2 separate regions of the Homo sapiens genome follow, and region 2 is linked to region 1. A link means that fine-mapping ties the variant in region 1 to the expression of a gene that starts in the linked region. Tissue or cell type: whole blood. Region 1 holds a variant in brackets; the other region holds the start of a gene. All regions are shown on one strand. Distances are from middle to middle.

Region 1 (8,104 bases):
CCTTCCTTCCTTCCTTCTTTCTCCCTTCCCCTCCCTTCCCTTCCCCTTCTTTCTCCCTTCCCCTCCCTTCCCTTCCTTTCCCCTTCCCCTCCCTTCCCTTCCCTTCCCCTTCTCCTTCCTTCCTTCCTTCCTTACTTCTCTCTTTCTTTTTTGGTTGAGACAGGGTCATGATCTCTCACTCAGGCTAGACTGTAGCGGCATGGTCATGGCTTGCTGCAACCTCAACCTTTCAGGCTCAAGCCATCCTCCCACCTCAGCCCCCAAGTAGCTGGGCTTGCAGGTGTGCACCACTACACTTGGCTAATTTTTAAATTTTTTGGAGAAATGGGGTCTCCCTGTGTTGCCCAGGCTGGTCTCAAACTCCTGGCCTCAAATTATCCTCCTGCCTCAGCTTCTCAAAGTGTTGGGATTACAGGTGTTAGCCACCTTGCCCAAGCTTGCATTGATAGTTTTTTTGAAGTTACTTAGCCTGGTGCAGTGGCTTGTGCCTGTAGTCTGAGCTTCTTGGGAAGCTGAGATGGGAGGATTGCTTGAGCCTAGGAGTTTGAGGCTGCAGTGTTCTCTGATCGTGCCACTGCACTCCAGCCTGGGCAACAGAGCAAGACCCCATCACTGGGGGAAGGGGGGAAAGGTTATATATACTATCTTCTTGTCTTAGGGATTTTTTTTTTTTTTTTTTTTGAGACAGAGTCTCGCACTGTCACCCAGGCTGGAGTGCACTGGCGCGATCTCAGCACACTGCAAGTTCCGCCTCCTGGGTTCATGCCATTCTCCTGCCTCAGCCTCCCGAGTAGTTGGGACTACAGGCACCCACCACCACGCCCAGCTAATTTTTTGCATTTTTAATAGAGACAGGGTTTCACTGTGTTAGCCAGGATGATCTCGATCTCCTGACCTCAAGTGATCCGCCCGCCTTGGCCTCCCAAAGTGCTGGGATTCCAGGCATGAGCCACCGTGCTGGGTCATCTTAGGGACTTTTTTTTTAACTTATTCTATTAAGAAAGCAATACCTGCTTTTCTCCTCTTAAGGAGATGACATGCCCAGAGATGCTCAATTAATTGGTCTGAAGAGGAGCTGTGGCATGGGCTTATTTCCCCCTTCAGGAACCATTGTTCCAATGTATTTAACCTATAACTCTCCCTGACATGACTTTTCAGAAACATGTTTGGGCCAAATCCATCTGCAAGCACAGATTCCAGTTCCTTTGCATCCAGTGGAAATTCAGAGCCTGCAAAACATTTGCAAGAGTGTCATTCTTTCTTTTCTCCTCTTCCAGAATCATCACCTATCTTTACTGGCAGATCACAGAGGGAAGGAAGATTATGATAAGGCTGCTCCATGAGCAGATCATTAATGTAAGTCCCCTTGGATCCCTCTGATGTCCGCCCTCACCCTTTTTAAACGCTGTATAAACATCCTCCAAAATAAAGAGAATACTACAATGAACTCTCATATCCCTGCTCTCAGCCCTAACAACCATCAATGTTTTTATATTCTTATTTCATCTACACTTTCTCTTCCCAGCAAATCCCTTATTTTTATTCTTAGTATTTATTTATTTTAATTATGATGATTATTATTATTATTTTGAGATAGAGTTTTGCTCTTGTTGCCCAGGCTGGAGTGCAGTGGTGCAATCTCGGCTCACGGCAACTTCTGCCTCCAGGGTTCAAGCGATTCTCCTGCCCCAACCTCCCAAGTAGCTGGAATTACAGGTGCCTGCCACCATGCCCAGCTAATTTTTGAATTTTTAGTGGAGACAGGGTTTCACCATGTTGGCCAGGCTGGTCTCGAACTGCTGACCTCAGGTGATCCACCTGCCTCCCAAAGTGCTGGGATTACAGCCATCACACCCAGCCTTATTTTATTTTTTTAGAGGTGGGGGTCTTGCTATGTTGCCCTGGCTGGATTCAAATTCCTGGGCTCCTGCCTCAGCCTCCGGAGTAGCTGAGATTACAGGCAGGTGCCACTCCATCTGGCTCCCTGGATTATTTTAAAGCAAATCTTAGGCTTTATATTATTTTTTATTTATTAAAACTTAGATATATATATATATATATCTCTCTATAAGATAAATACTTTTATTTCATTTATTTATTTATTTTGAGACAGAGTTTCACTCTTGTTGCCCAGGTTGGAGTGCAGTGGAGCAATCTTGGCTCACTGCAACCTCCGCCTCCCGGGTTCAAGCAATTCTTCTGCCTCAGCTTCCCGCATAGCTGGAATTACAGGCGCCTGCCACCACACCCGGCTAATTTTGTATTTTTAGTAGAGATGGGGTTTCTCCATGTTGGTCAGGCTGGTCTCAAACTTCCGACCTCAGGTGATCCGCCCGCCTCGGCCTCCCAAAGTGCTAAGATTACAGGTGTGAGCCATCGCCCCCAGCTGAGATAAAGACTTTTAAAAATAACTACAATATCATCATCACACTTAAAAAACTTAACAATAATTTATTATTATCATCTTATATCCAATGTTTACATTTCCCCAACTGTCCCCTTAAGTGTCTTTTTATACTAGAACTGCACAAATCAGGATCTGAAAAGGGGGTACATGTTGCATTTGGTTAATGTCTCTCTCTCTCTCTCTCTCTTTTTTTTTTTTTGAGACAGAATCTCACTGTGTCTCCCAGGCTGGAACGCAGTGGCATGATTTTGGCTCACTGCAACTTCTGCCTCCTGGGTTCAAGTGATTCTCCTGCCTCAGCCTCCTGAGTAGCTGGGATTACAGGTGTGTGCCACCACGCCCAGCTAATTTTTGTATTTTTAGTAGAGACGGGGTTTCACCATGTTGACTAGGCTGGTCTCAAACTCCTGACCTCAAGTGATCCACCTGCCTTGGCCTCCCAAAGTGCTGGGATTACAGGCGTGAGCCACTGCGCCCAGCCAATATGCCTAACTTTCTTTTACTCTATAACCATTTACCACTTCCCCTCCCCACTTCCTCTTTTCTTTTTATTGTTAAAGAATGCAGGTCATCTGTTTCATATTTTCCATATCCTACATATATCTTTTTTTTTTGTTTTGACATGGAGTCTTGCTCTGGGGCACGTGCCTATGGGGGATACTGGAAACCATTTTTCCTGGGTATTGAGACGTGGCATGTAAGTTGCTTCCAGCAGCCGACTTCTGGAGGCTACTTTCTCAAGCCTGTTAGGGGAATTGCTTTAGAGGAGAATATTACAGTGCAGGAAGGCTCTGGGGGATAATTTGGTTTTACTGTGAAATGTTTCTTTTCTTTCACCAAAAGATGGCAGTAACCTCCATCCAACTTCTAGGATCCTAGCTGCCTGAAAACCGACGTTCTTCCCATCAATTGCTTTCTCAATTCCATACCATCATTCATTCATATTTTTGTTTCTTTCTGGTTTTGTTTTCCTTCTTGGTAGGAGGGCAAAGATAAAATGTTCCTGATAGAAAAATTGATCAAGCTGCAGGATATGGAGAAGAAAGCAAACCCCAGCTCACTTGTTCTGGAAAGGAGAGAGGTGGAGGTGAGTCTGGAGGCTGCCTTGGGGACCCCTGGGACACGAGCTTGCCTCCATGTAAAAAGCGCGTCAGAGAACTACAGACCAAGCTCTTGGGATCATGGAAGGGCCCTTCACTCTCTGTCTTAAGTATTTCTGTGGTTTTTACTTAAAAAGTAATATTCATGGCCAGGTGCAGTGGCTCACGCCTGTAATCCCAGCACTTTGGGAGGCCTACGCGGGTGGATCAAGAGGTCAGGAGTTTGAGACCAGCCTGGCCAATATGGTGAAACCCTGTCTCTACTAAAAATACAAAAGTTAGCTGGGTGTGGTGGCACGCACCTGTAGCCCCAGCTACTTGGGAGGCTGAGGCAGAAGAATTGCTTGAACCCAGGAGGTGGAGGTTGCGGTGAGCCAAAATCATGCCACTGCACTCCAGCCTAGGTGACAGAGTGGCACTCTGTCTCAAAAAAAAGTAATATTCATTTTTTCAGCACTTTTCATGCCTGTACTTTTTCTAGGTGCTGGGGTTACGGTGAACAAAACAAAGCCCCCGCCCTCATGGAACTTGCA[C/T]GCTTGTTTTTCACAACCCCGATAATACAGAAGTAGATCCCACTGAGATGAAAAGGGCCCTGAAATCTCATCTCACTATGAATACTTCAGTGTCTATTCTTTTTTTTTTTTTTTTTTTTTGAGACGGAGTCTCGCTCTGTCGCCCAGGCTGGAGTGCAGTGGCGGGATCTCGGCGCACTGCAAGCTCCGCCTCCCGGGTTCACGCCATTCTCCTGCCTCAGCCTCCCAAGTAGCTGGGACTACAGGCGCCCGCCACTACGCCCGGCTAATTTTTTGTATTTTTAGTAGAGACGGGGTTTCACCGTTTTAGCCGGGATGGTCTCGATCTCCTGACCTCGTGATCCGCCCGCCTCGGCCTCCCAAAGTGCTGGGATTACAGGCGTGAGCCACCGCGCCCGGCCTACTTCAGTGTCTATTCTTGCAAATCTATTTCCCTAGGCATCTGCAAACATACCTGTATCTACCAACACTTTAATTTACTTGTTTATTACAAAAGTGAGGCTATATTATACAAATAGTATCATAACTTCCCTCCCCCGCAGCCCACCACTAAATACTATATCTTGAACGATGTTTAATTCTGTACATATTTGGATATTTGGGTTGTTTCTATGTTTTTAAATACTTAAAACAGTAGGTAATGAAACATTTTGTTACAATTATTTTTTGTGCGTTTATAATCGCAGCTACTCAGGAGGCTGAGGTGGGAGGGGAGGACTGCTTGAGGCCAGGAGTTTAAGACCAACATAGCGAGACCCCATCCCTTAAAAAATTTTAATAATTAGGCACGGTGGCATGCAACTGTAGCCTCAGCTACTCAGGAAGCTGAGGTGAGAGGACTGCTCAAACCCAGGAGTTTGAGGCTACAGTGAGCTATGATCCCATCACCGCACTCCAGCTTGGGAGACAGAACAAGACCCTCTCTCTAAAAAAAATTACCCTGGGCACAGTGGCTCCCTCCTGTGATCCCCAGCACTTTGGGAGGCCGAGGCGGGCTTATCACTTGAGGTCAGGGGTTCGAGACCAGCCCAGCAAACATGGTGAAACCCATCTCTAGTAAAAATATAAAAAACAAAAACAAACAAACAAGAAAACTTAGCTGGGTGTTGTGGTGCACATCTGTAATCCCAGCTACTTGGGAGGCTGAAGCACAGGAAATCACTTGGACCCAGGAGGTGGAGATTGCAGTGAGCCAAGGTCACACCATTGCACTCCAGCCTGGGCAACAGTGCAAGACTCCGTGTCAAAAAAAAAAAAAAATTAAAAAGTTATTTTTTGTGAATATTTCTGCCACAAAGCACGTACATGACAATGTTAATAGATATTGCTATATCATTCCCTTAAAAAGATTTAATCAATTTCATTCTTACCAAGAGAATATAAAGATACATGAAACCCTGCTCTAATTCCAAAGCCTTGCTTGCTTCCTGAGTGTCCTGAAAATACAGATGAACAGTAAATCCACCTTAACGCAAATACCACTTATGTTGGAAATTGTGATCTTGACAGAAGTGACTGACAAGTAATTTACCATCTGTGCAAATTTATACTGTCAGCACAATTTAGGTAAGGGATCTAGAGGCCTAAAGGTAGATTCTCTGAAGGTGAGGACCACGTCTGTGCACTTGTCACCCCACGTCCTAATTTATTACCTGGCATAATATGAATGCTCAGTGAATATCTGTGGAACGGCCAGGTGCGGTGGCTCACGCCTGTAATCCCAGCACTTTGGGAGGCCGAGGTGGACAGATCACTTGAGGTCAGGAGTTTGAGACCGGCCTGACCAACATGGTGAAACCCTGTCTCTACTAAAAATAAAAAAAAAAAATTAGCTGGGCGTGGTGGCAGGCACCTATAATCCCAGCTACTCCAGAGGCTGAGGCGGGAAAATCGCTGGAACCCGAGAGGCGGAGGTTGCAGTGAGCCGAGATCATGCCATTCCACTCCAGTCTAGGAGATAAAGCAAGACTCTGTCAAAAAAAAAAAAAAAAAAAAAAAAAAGAGTATCTGTGGAATGAATGAATGGAATCACTCTCCCTAAAAAACAAAACATGTTCAATATTTCTATGGCGGAGACTTGGCCTTAATCTCTCATCCCTTAACTTCTATAAAATGGTGAGGGGCTCACAAATTGTGCCAAATATGTGACAAGACCCAGAATCTGCATTCTTCCTCCGTGACGTGGCTGCTTGTTTTTTTCTTTTTCAGCAACAAGGCTTTTTGCATTTGGGGGAACATGATGGCAGTCTTGGTGAGTAATTAAACTGGGACAGAATAAGACACTAATTTATTTCTGGTGAAATATCCTAAGACAAGTGTAAGAATTGCTCATGTGTCCATTACTTTTTCAGTTGCAAATTGGATCCAAACTGGCTTAAACAAAATTCCAAGAATAATTCTTGCTTTAGGCCTTGCCTAACGCAGGAACTCACAGTGTCACCAGAACCCGGTTTCTTTCAGTTCCGTTCTTACCCATGTTAGTTCCTTTTGCAATAGACTCTGCCTAATAAGTGCAAGACAGCTTTATCAACTTCTTATATCTTCTCAGAGTCAGTCTGGTGGGAAAGACTGAGGGACCCAGGATTCTCACGGTGTTTCATAGGATCTGACTGGGTGATGTCCCCGTCTATGAACCAATTGTTGTGGGTGCAAAAATGTGGCAGTTCCCTTGATCACATGATTTCATCTGTAGATGCAGGTGGTGCAACCATGAAGACCATAGGGACCAAGAGTAGGGAAGGGTGACTTCCTAAAGAAAATCTGGGGCTGATGCCAGGAGAGCGAATTCTGGGCAGGAAACAAACAAGCAAACCCATTTATTTTTGGGGGATAGCATTTACTGATGACTTCCAGTGATGGGAGTTCAAGGGAAGGATTATAGAAACTAAAAGGAAGAGGCAAAGAAGGCATGAGAAGCTATGGAATCTTGAAGGCAAGCTGGTCTTTCCCTTGTAGAGATGGGGCAGAGTGTGCCTGCGTTAACTTCTCTTTCCTGTGTCAAACCTAGACTTGCGATCTAGAAGATCAGTTCAAGAAGGTAATCCAAGGGCCTGATGACTCTTTTGGTAACCAGACACCAATCAAATAAGGGGAGGAGACGAAAATGGAATGATTTCTTCCATGCCACCTGTGCCTTTAGGAACTGCCCAGAAGAAAATCCAAGGCTTTAGCCAGGAGCGGAAACTGACTACCATGTAATTATCAAAGTAAAATTGGGCATTCCATGCTATTTTTAATACCTGGATTGCTGATTTTTCAAGACAAAATACTTGGGGTTTTCCAATAAAGATTGTTGTAATATTGAAATGAGCCTACAAAAACCTAGGAAGAGATAACTAGGGAATAATGTATATTATCTTCAAGAAGTGTGTGCAGGAATGATTGGTTCTTAGAAATCTCTCCTGCCAGACTTCCCAGACCTGGCAAAGGTTTAGAAACTGTTGCTAAGAAAAGTGGTCCATCCTGAATAAACATGTAATACTCCAGCAGGGATATGAAGCCTCTGAATTGTAGAACCTGCATTTATTTGTGACTTTGAACTAAAGACATCCCCCATGTCCCAAAGGTGGAATACAACCAGAGGTCTCATCTCTGAACTTTCTTGCGTACTGATTACATGAGTCTTTGGAGTCGGGGATGGAGGAGGTTCTGCCCCTGTGAGGTGTTATACATGACCATCAAAGTCCTACGTCAAGCTAGCTTTGCAGTGGCAGTACCGTAGCCAATGAGATTTATCCGAGACGCGATTATTGCTAATTGGAAATTTTCCCAATACCCCACCGTGATGACTTGAAATATAATCAGCGCTGGCAATTTTTGACAGTCTCTACGGAGACTGAATAAGAAAAAAGAAAAGAAAAGAAATTAGCTGGGTGCGATGGCTTATGCCTGTAATCCCGGCACTTTGGGAGGCTGAGGCAAGCGGATCACTTAATGTCAGGAGTTCAAGACCAGCCTGGCCAACATGGTGAAACCCCGTCTCTACTAAAAATAAAAAAACTAGCTGGGCGTGGTGGTACATGCCTATAATCCCAGCTACTCGGGAGGCTGAGGCAGGAGAATTG
Region 2 (8,104 bases), 26 kb after region 1:
AATCCTGATCTGTTTCTGTTTTCTGTGTATATAACCTTACTTCAATTCCTAACTGATGGATTCCTTAAAAACTTTAATTTTCCCACTCTTCTTACTTTCACAGTGGAAGACTAGGAGACTTCAGGAACTTATGTTTTCTCTGGATGTTTAACTATATGGGTCATCAATGGCTTATGAATACTTAGACAATTCCACTGTTTACCTACACTATTTGTTGGTACAGCAGTTCTGATGATCACCCTACGGTTGTTGATTAGTCAGATATTTCACTACTTTGGCATAAATGAGTCAGGTTTTTGTTGGTTTAATTCCACCCTCTACCACAAAGACACCACGCCTGCTTCTAGGACATATCACATTTTGTTTATGTAAGCAGCACTGGCTGTTGGCCCATAAGTTGTTAAGCTTGATGAGGTAGATTAGAATTTATCTAAAAAGAGAATTTGAACCTTAAATTACACGAGCCATGCTCCTCTGGAGACACACTATTTAATGTTTGCTTCCTTGGCTTCCTCATCACAATAAAGATGTGAAATGCTCATTACGATGAAGATTTCTTTCTTTTTTTTTTTTTTTGGAGACAGGATCTGGCTCTGTTGTTCAGGCTAGAGTGCAGTGGCATGATCTCGGCTCACTAAAACCTCCGCCTCCTGGGTTCAAGCCATCCTCCCACCTCAGTCTCCCAAGTAGCCGGGACTACTGGCACGTGCCACCATGCCCAGCTAATTTTTGTATTTTTTGTAGAGATGGGGTTTCACCATGTTGTCCAGGCTGGTCTCGAACTCCTGAGATCAAGCAATCCTCCTGCCTCAGTCTCCCAAAGTGCTGGGATTACAGGTGTGAGCCACTGTGCCCAGCTATGATCAAGATTTTTAATTTTTTAAAAAATATTTTAAGTCATGGTCTATTGCAAACATCTACAGTAAAAAAGATTTAACATATGTGAATATTTTGACCTAATTTCCTCAGTCTCTTTCTGTACTAAAACAAAAACAAAAACAAAAACTATTATTTATTGAGCCTTTTCTACTTGCCAGGCACTCTTCTAAGTGCTTTAAATGTATTAACTTATTTGATCCTCACAACCCTGAAGCAGGTACTATTAATATTCTCATTTAACAGATAAGAAAACTGAGACAAAGAAAGAGTAGGAAACTTGCCCAGGGCTGCACAAGCTAGGATGCAGTAGAAGTTGCACTCTTATCCGCTTCAGTTTTACTATCAACACTACAGATACAGCTGAAATTCTCCCTTTCATTCTCCTCCTTTCCTCTCCAGAGGTAATTACCATCTTAAAGTTGGTGTATATCATTCTCATGTCACTCCCTTACCGGTTTTTATTTAAGTACCCATAAACAACACAGAGCACTGTGCTAGTGAATAGTTAAGATTTCAATAAATGTTAGCCATTGTTATTTATTATGTCCTTTTAAACACATCTTTAAAGGTAATATAGTCAAATTTATCAATAACGTCCTTTATGGGTGGAGATTTTTCTGCTTTATTTAAATCTTTTCCTTTTCCCATGTGATACAGATGTACGACTATTTTGGAAAAACACATCACATTTTCCCTCTGCTCTCACAACAATCAACCCCGACGTCTGTGACCAAAAATGTGGGGGTTTTTCCCCACCAATAAGTAGTGGACACCAGCTGGGTATCCTCCAACTCAATTTTGACACTATCTACCTGGAGATAGTGTCAGATCATAGGTTGAGGGCTTGGTCCCCAAGACTGCACCCCACCCTCCTCCAGACACAAATAGCAAGCTGGGGCCTATGGAACTTCTGACCAATTGGCTTCAAGTCCTCTTAGGTTTATTTTAGTTTTTATTTTTTTAATTCCTCTTAGGTTTTTATGGAAGCTTCATGATGTCAGCATTCCTTCCCCCAGGGTATAGGGTGGGGTCCCTCTCTGAGGAGGGTCTTAAGACTCACAATTTGAAAGACAGGGAAAGATTCCAGTCCTGCCTTGGGGTAGGTGAAAGGAGGGCAGGAGAGATTCTGTTTCCCAAGGCCTGCTCCTAAGGCCTAGGATGCCTAACAAAATACTGTAGCAAGGGCTGAGAGTTATGAGCCAGGAACCATGGATGAAAACCTATATATGTGTGTGTATGTGCATATATATATATATATATATATATACATACACAATACTTAATAGATTACAATATAGTGTAAACATAACTTTTATATGCACTGGGAAACCAAAAAATTTGTGACTCCCTTTATTACTATATTTGCTTTATTGACTATTTACTCAGGTCTGGAACTGAACTTGCAATATCTCCTATATATACTAATATGTGAATTAGAACCAGGGATTCATCTTTTTATCTCAATTACTGGAATAACATAGAAGTACTGGTAAAGCTGGCCAGGCAGTGGCTCATGCCTGTGATCCCAGCACTTTGCCTGTAATCCCAGCACTCTGTAATCCACTGAGGCAGGTGGATCACTTGAGGTCAGGAGTTTGAGACCAGCCTTGCCAACATGGCAAAACACCATCTCTACTAAAAACAAAAAACAAAAATTAGCTGGGAGTGGAGGAGTACATCTGTAATCTTAGCTACTTGGGAGCCTGAGGCACAAGAATCGCTTCAACCTGGGAGGTGGAAGTTGCAGTGAGTTGAGATCGCCCCACTGCACTCAAACCTGGGTGACAGAGAGAGACCCTGTCTCAAAAATAAATAAATAAATAAAATTATTGGTAAAGTCGAATGTATACATACATATATACATTTCTGACAGTGCTAGAATTTCTGGTAGATTATAAATGAGATATAGAAGGAAAAACTTGATAAATGTGAGTTGAGTGTATTCCAAAAACAGATACACTACTATAAACAGTGGCAAAGGAATGAAATTACACCCACAGTACATTCTCCACATGGGCCAGAGTGCAGCTTTAAAAGTATAAATCTTGGCCGGGCACGGTGGCTCATGCCTGTAATCGCAGCTACTCGGGAGGTTGAGGCAGTAGAATCACTTGAACCTGGGATACAGAGGTTGCAGTGAGCTGGGGTTGCGCCGATGCACTGTAGCCTGGGAGACAGTGAGACTTCGTTTAAAAAAAAAGAAAAAAAAAAAGAAAAAAAAAGGAAATGAGGGAGGCCAGGCATGATGGCTCATGCCTGTAATCCTAGTACCTTGGGAGGCCGAGGCGGGTGGATCACTTTGAGGCCAGGAGTTTGAGACCAGTCTGGCCAACATAGCAGAACCCCATCTCTACTAAAAATACAAAAATTAGCTGGGCGTGGTGGCACACGCCTGTAATCCCAGCTACTCCGGAGGCTGAGGCACGAGAATCGCTTGAACACGGGAGGCAGGGGTTGCAGTGCGTGGAGATTGCACCACTGCCCTCCAGCCTGGGTAAAAGAGTGAGACTCTGTAAAGTAAAAAAAAAAAAAAGAAGAAGAAGGAAGGAAGAAGAGAGAGAAAAATAAAAAAGAAGAGAATCAGATATATTTACACAGATGCAAAAGTGCCTAATCCACTGAAAAGCCCTCTCTGTAAGCTGTCATTATTATGAAGCTAGGAGAATGCCAAGAGCTGGGAGGTATCAAAAGTTTCAGGAGTGCCTTGTGAAAAGGAGGGGGCAGAAACTGATGTGAGTCCAGCTGCCAGGGTTGTGCGAGTGCGAATGTGTGTGTCTGGGGAAAAGGTGATAAGGAAATGACTCAAGTGATTTACAAGACAAGCAAACGTATGTCTTGTGAAGGGTGATCTATTTAGACTAACCTCAATTACTGACCAAGAACCTATTTGACCTGACCCATTTTCTACTTCATTCACACACCAGTCTTTGTTCTCTTCCTTGAAGTCAGGCCACACACTGCCTCTTCTGTTACCTGAACACCCCTATATTATTCCCATCTCAGGACCTTCTGCACCTGCCTGGCTCCTTATAATTCCGGTTTCTGTTCAAATGTTGCTTCTTCGGAGACGATTTCTCTTGACTATTCCATCTAAATAAAATAGCGTAACTCTTTCCTTCGAGTTCCCCCGATTTCTTCATTGCACCTTTCACTCTCTTAAAGTTATCTCATTTATGTGTTTACTTGTTTAAGGCTTGCCTCCCCCATTCCGATGTACACTCTGTAAACCAGGGACACTTTTGACCTTGTTCCTGGCTGTATGTAACCTTAGCGTCAGGCGCACAGAAACTATATACATATCTGCTGTCTTCTGTAAATATAAAACCTCAAGTCCGGAGATCCCTAGACACTGGGAGCGATCAAGGGCCGGGAGTGTGCCTTGTGGACGAATGAGGAAGTGGGAAGGCCGTCCTGAGAAGATCGGGGAACCCTGGGAAGGAAAAGTAGAAGTCCGAGCTCTCGGGAGGACCGAGGGGCGCGAACGTGGGGGTCTCACCTGCCGAATGGCCGCCAGCGTGTTCTCGGGCGCGTCGTGGCTGCCGCCACGGTGGGCGATGGCAGAAATGCGGTCCCGGGGCTTGAGCACCTGCAGGGCCCTGCAAGAGGGCACCGGCTCAAAGCTGAAGACGCGCAGTAGAACGAAGAGGCTGCCGGTGAGGAGGCAGGCATTGACCGGGCTCCGCGTCACCAGCAGCAGCACTAGCAGCAGGAAGGAGAAAGGGCCCAGGAGGCCGCCCTGGTCCTCCCACAGCCACATGCCGGCGCCCGCACCGGCACGGACGGGAGTCCCGGACCCGCCGGGCTCCTGGGGCAGTAGAACGAGAAGCGAGGGGGAGGGTCCAAGGCACCGGCAGCAGCAGGAACCCTCTGAGGGGACCAGCGCCGCACAATGGCGGCAGCAGACACATCCAGAGAGGGAGTCGGCCGCCCAGCCAATCAGGGATCGGGATTCGCAGCGCCAGTGGGCGGAGCCGCTCCATGGCAACGGGGGAGGGCCCAGGCCCCAGGCCCCAGGCTCACGTTCCAAATCTAAGGTGGGTTAGGGTTTTCCGAGGTCTGAACTTCAACCTGGGCGTTCAGACTCCTAGGCGAGAAAAGGAGGGATAAGAACCATCCTAAAGCTGTAGGACTGGAAGGGATTTTAGTGACTCCTTTATCTGCCCTTGAGGAAACTGAATTCCAGGGAACCTGGAGAGGCAGGATGCTTAGACTATCAATTCAATTCAATTCAATTCAGTTCAGTTCAGTTCAATTCAAGATGTGCCAAATACCGGTCCAGGTGCTCCGGACACAGTTGAACAGGACCTACAGGGTTTTTGCTCTTATGGGATTCACATTCTTGTGGGAGGAAATAAAAGTTAGCAAGTACACCTAACGTTTACAGAGCACTTACCATGTCCCAGGTACTTGACGAGCAAACACTTTATATGCTTATCTCATTCTCAATACAGCCTAACAGTTACTATCAGGAGACTGATTTCAATCGACTTTATTTTCCAGATTCTGGGGGACTGGAAGAGCCTAGCAAAGAAGGCACAATCGGATTATAAAACTGGAAGGGGTTTTAAGGATTCCCTTATTTCATAGATGCGGAAACTGAGGATAGGTGAATTAAGCAGTTAATGGCAGGGTGGGGACTGACATAAAGGCCTCCCCAGTGATTTGTGACATTTTCACTCCTCCTCCCCCTAATCTTACTTCTGCTAAGGGCTTTTGTACCAGGCACTGTACAGGAGTTACCTCAACTGTGCCTCACAACCACCCTTGTGATAGGCACTTTTAAAACCCCCATTTTACATATGCAAAAACAGGCACTGGAAGGAGGGTAAGAGAGATAGACCATGAAGCCGAGTTAGGGAGTGAAAAGGGGCCCCTGGACATATTTTGGAGGGCTGGTAACATTTTTATGTAGAGAACTTTGCAAAAATATTCAGGGATTTTTCTGTTACCTTTTTTTCCTTTAGTGCATTTTCCCACTGATTTGCAAAAGGGGATAGATGTCTTAAGCCTTCCAGTTGGCATCTAGGATTCAGCCTTTTTTTTTTTTTCTTTCAGACAGTCTCACTCTATCGCCCAGGTTGGAATGCAGTGGTGCAATCATGGCTCACTGCAACGTCGACCTCCTGGGCTCAAGCGATCTTCCGACCTCAGCCTCCCGAGTAGCTGGGATCACAGGCTCGCGCCACCCCACCCGGCTAACGTTTAAAATTTTTGTAGAGATGCCGTCTCCCTTTGTTGCCCAGGCTGATCTCGAACTCCTGGGCTCAAGCGATCCTTCCGCCTCGGCTTCCAAAATGTTGGAATTATAGGCGTAAGCCATCACGCCCGGTGGGTTCAGCAAGTTTTTACCTACAAGAAAATATTTTGGTGAATGTTACATGTTTTCTAACGGCTGCATAGAAAGGGGTTATCTTTATACAGATAAGAAAAAAATGGCAACTTCAAGGAACACTTCAGGGGGCTTCAGACCCTGAGGGGTGTTCCTATTCTACTAAATAAGTAAATTTATTAATAAATTCTAGTCTCTAGCTTGCAAGGAAGACTACGTTTCCCGGCGTGCAGCGTGCTGGCCGTAAGCATTACGTCCTCCATCGCGGGCGCGCAATGCACCTCGGGGATGGTAGTGTTCTGGTGGCCCAACGGTTTTAACAGCCCGGGAATCAACCACCGGAAGTGCCGGCCCTGAGAGGTGGAGTCGGGGTGGCAGCGGCGGCGGTTGCCAGGAGCCCGCGTTGCAGCCTGAGATCCGTAATATGGCGGGGAGGAGGAGGAGAAGGCGGCGGCGGACCGAGCTGCGCTCTGTCAGTACCATTTGAGCCATTCGCTTCCTGACAAGGCCCGTGGCGAGGGGAGAGGAGCTGAAGGGGCCGTGGGGGATCAGGTGTGTGCATGAGGAGGGGGCTTGAGCCTTGACGGGTCCGGGCTGAGAGGTGGTCTGGCGAGGCGAAATTGGCGCCCTGAGAAGCTGAGGGCGGGCTCTGTGCTGGGCTCCCGGGCCTCGAGCCCCCTGGAAAGGCGCCGGCTGTTGGGAGGCGGGACCCCGGGGGCAGCCAGCACCGGGCGCTGAGGTGATGCTCCGATGCTGGCCCCGCCTGGAGGGCCCTCGGTTTGGAGTCTTAAATCGGAGGAGCTGGAGGAGGTGGGCATGGGGCGCTGGGGAGAGGGCAGGGGGCCGTCCCTGGTGAATAAAACTCGGGCCAGAGCCGGAGAACCCCATCGTGGTGATCAAATTGTTTGGGCCGTTTTTCTTCTCCCTCCCACGGTGCTGGAGAGGGAGGCTTCCCCGGGGTGTGCATTGGCCATTTATGAGCCCCTGTTTCCACAACCAAGGCCCTAGGAGCGCTGCTTACTTCGCCTTTGCCACTCTGGGGCATAAACTTGAGGATAATAAAGTAATCGATTGCCCCTGGAGCTGCTAGATGGTTCCCACCCTTTGATTCTATTCTGGTTACGATCCAAGCTCCCTACCCCCAGTTTAGGCAAATGGCAGCCATCTCGAGATTGATTTGACGGGGAGAGGTCTAGGGACAGGGAAATGAGGAAGCCGTTGTCCCCTTTTCTATATTTTTCAGTTTCATTTGAAACCTACGGGGAACCAAGCACTGTCGCTGCCCTCCAGGAATTCATACTCTACTGCTAAAAATCGTCATCATCATTATCCTCTTAATAAGAAAAGCAGTCCCCATTATTTGTTGCTTTCTGCGTGTTCTGCACTACGTTAATTGCCCTACATGCATTAGCTCATTGAATTCTTACAACATTCCTTTGAGACGGATACCGTGATCATCCCTCTTTTACAGAGGACGAAACAGGTGTGGGGATGGTAACTGGCTTGCCAAGAACTTGCAGCTAGTACGCATCTGAATAAGAAATCTTCCCCTTTACCGCTTTTACAAGAAGTTTGCGTCTTTGGCGGAACTGATGGGCAAAGAAACACTAGGTTCTGCAAAAAAAAAGCAGGATCTGTTCTGTGTTACTTTTACCACTCTTTTCAGTGACATGTCTGGCAGAGCACGGGTAAGGAGCAGATAGGACCATGAGTCTACGGGGTTTGCAAAGAGGCTCATTTGCACAAGGGTCAGTGGTTCTCTGTGGTATAAATGGAGAAGACGGCATGTCTGAACCTGCTGTAGCTGACAAATTATTACTGGAAGTGGACCAGTGATGCCTGATGGCAAGATATAGAGCAGTAGATTTGTGGCTGGGGTAGCCTTGTAGTCAGGGC

The links. PIP is the estimated chance that this variant, and not a neighbour inherited with it, causes the effect.
Region 2: it holds the start of GDE1, and the variant in region 1 is fine-mapped to the expression of GDE1 in whole blood (TOPMed, PIP above 0.99).

The regions. Positions count from the first base shown.
Region 1 is chr16:19,490,873-19,498,976 of GRCh38, forward strand. It overlaps TMC5 (transmembrane channel like 5), which reads left to right. Exons shown (of 22, transcript NM_001261841.2): 19 at 1,278-1,356; 20 at 3,390-3,494; 21 at 6,249-6,291; 22 at 7,048-8,104. The coding sequence ends at 7,094. It also overlaps the pseudogene RNU4-46P. Among named protein-coding and RNA genes, the nearest start is that of TMC5-AS1, 7.0 kb to the left of the region's middle. RefSeq lists a silencer at 5,638-5,849. The variant C/T (reference allele first, on the strand shown) is at 4,041.
Region 2 is chr16:19,517,329-19,525,432 of GRCh38, forward strand. GDE1 (glycerophosphodiester phosphodiesterase 1) reads right to left here and starts at 4,770. Exons shown (of 6, transcript NM_016641.4): 1 at 4,376-4,770. The coding sequence starts at 4,636. It overlaps CCP110 (centriolar coiled-coil protein 110), which reads left to right and starts at 6,614. Exons shown (of 14, transcript NM_001323572.2): 1 at 6,614-6,760. RefSeq lists enhancers at 4,052-4,111, 4,237-4,971, 4,282-4,451 and a silencer at 4,562-4,731.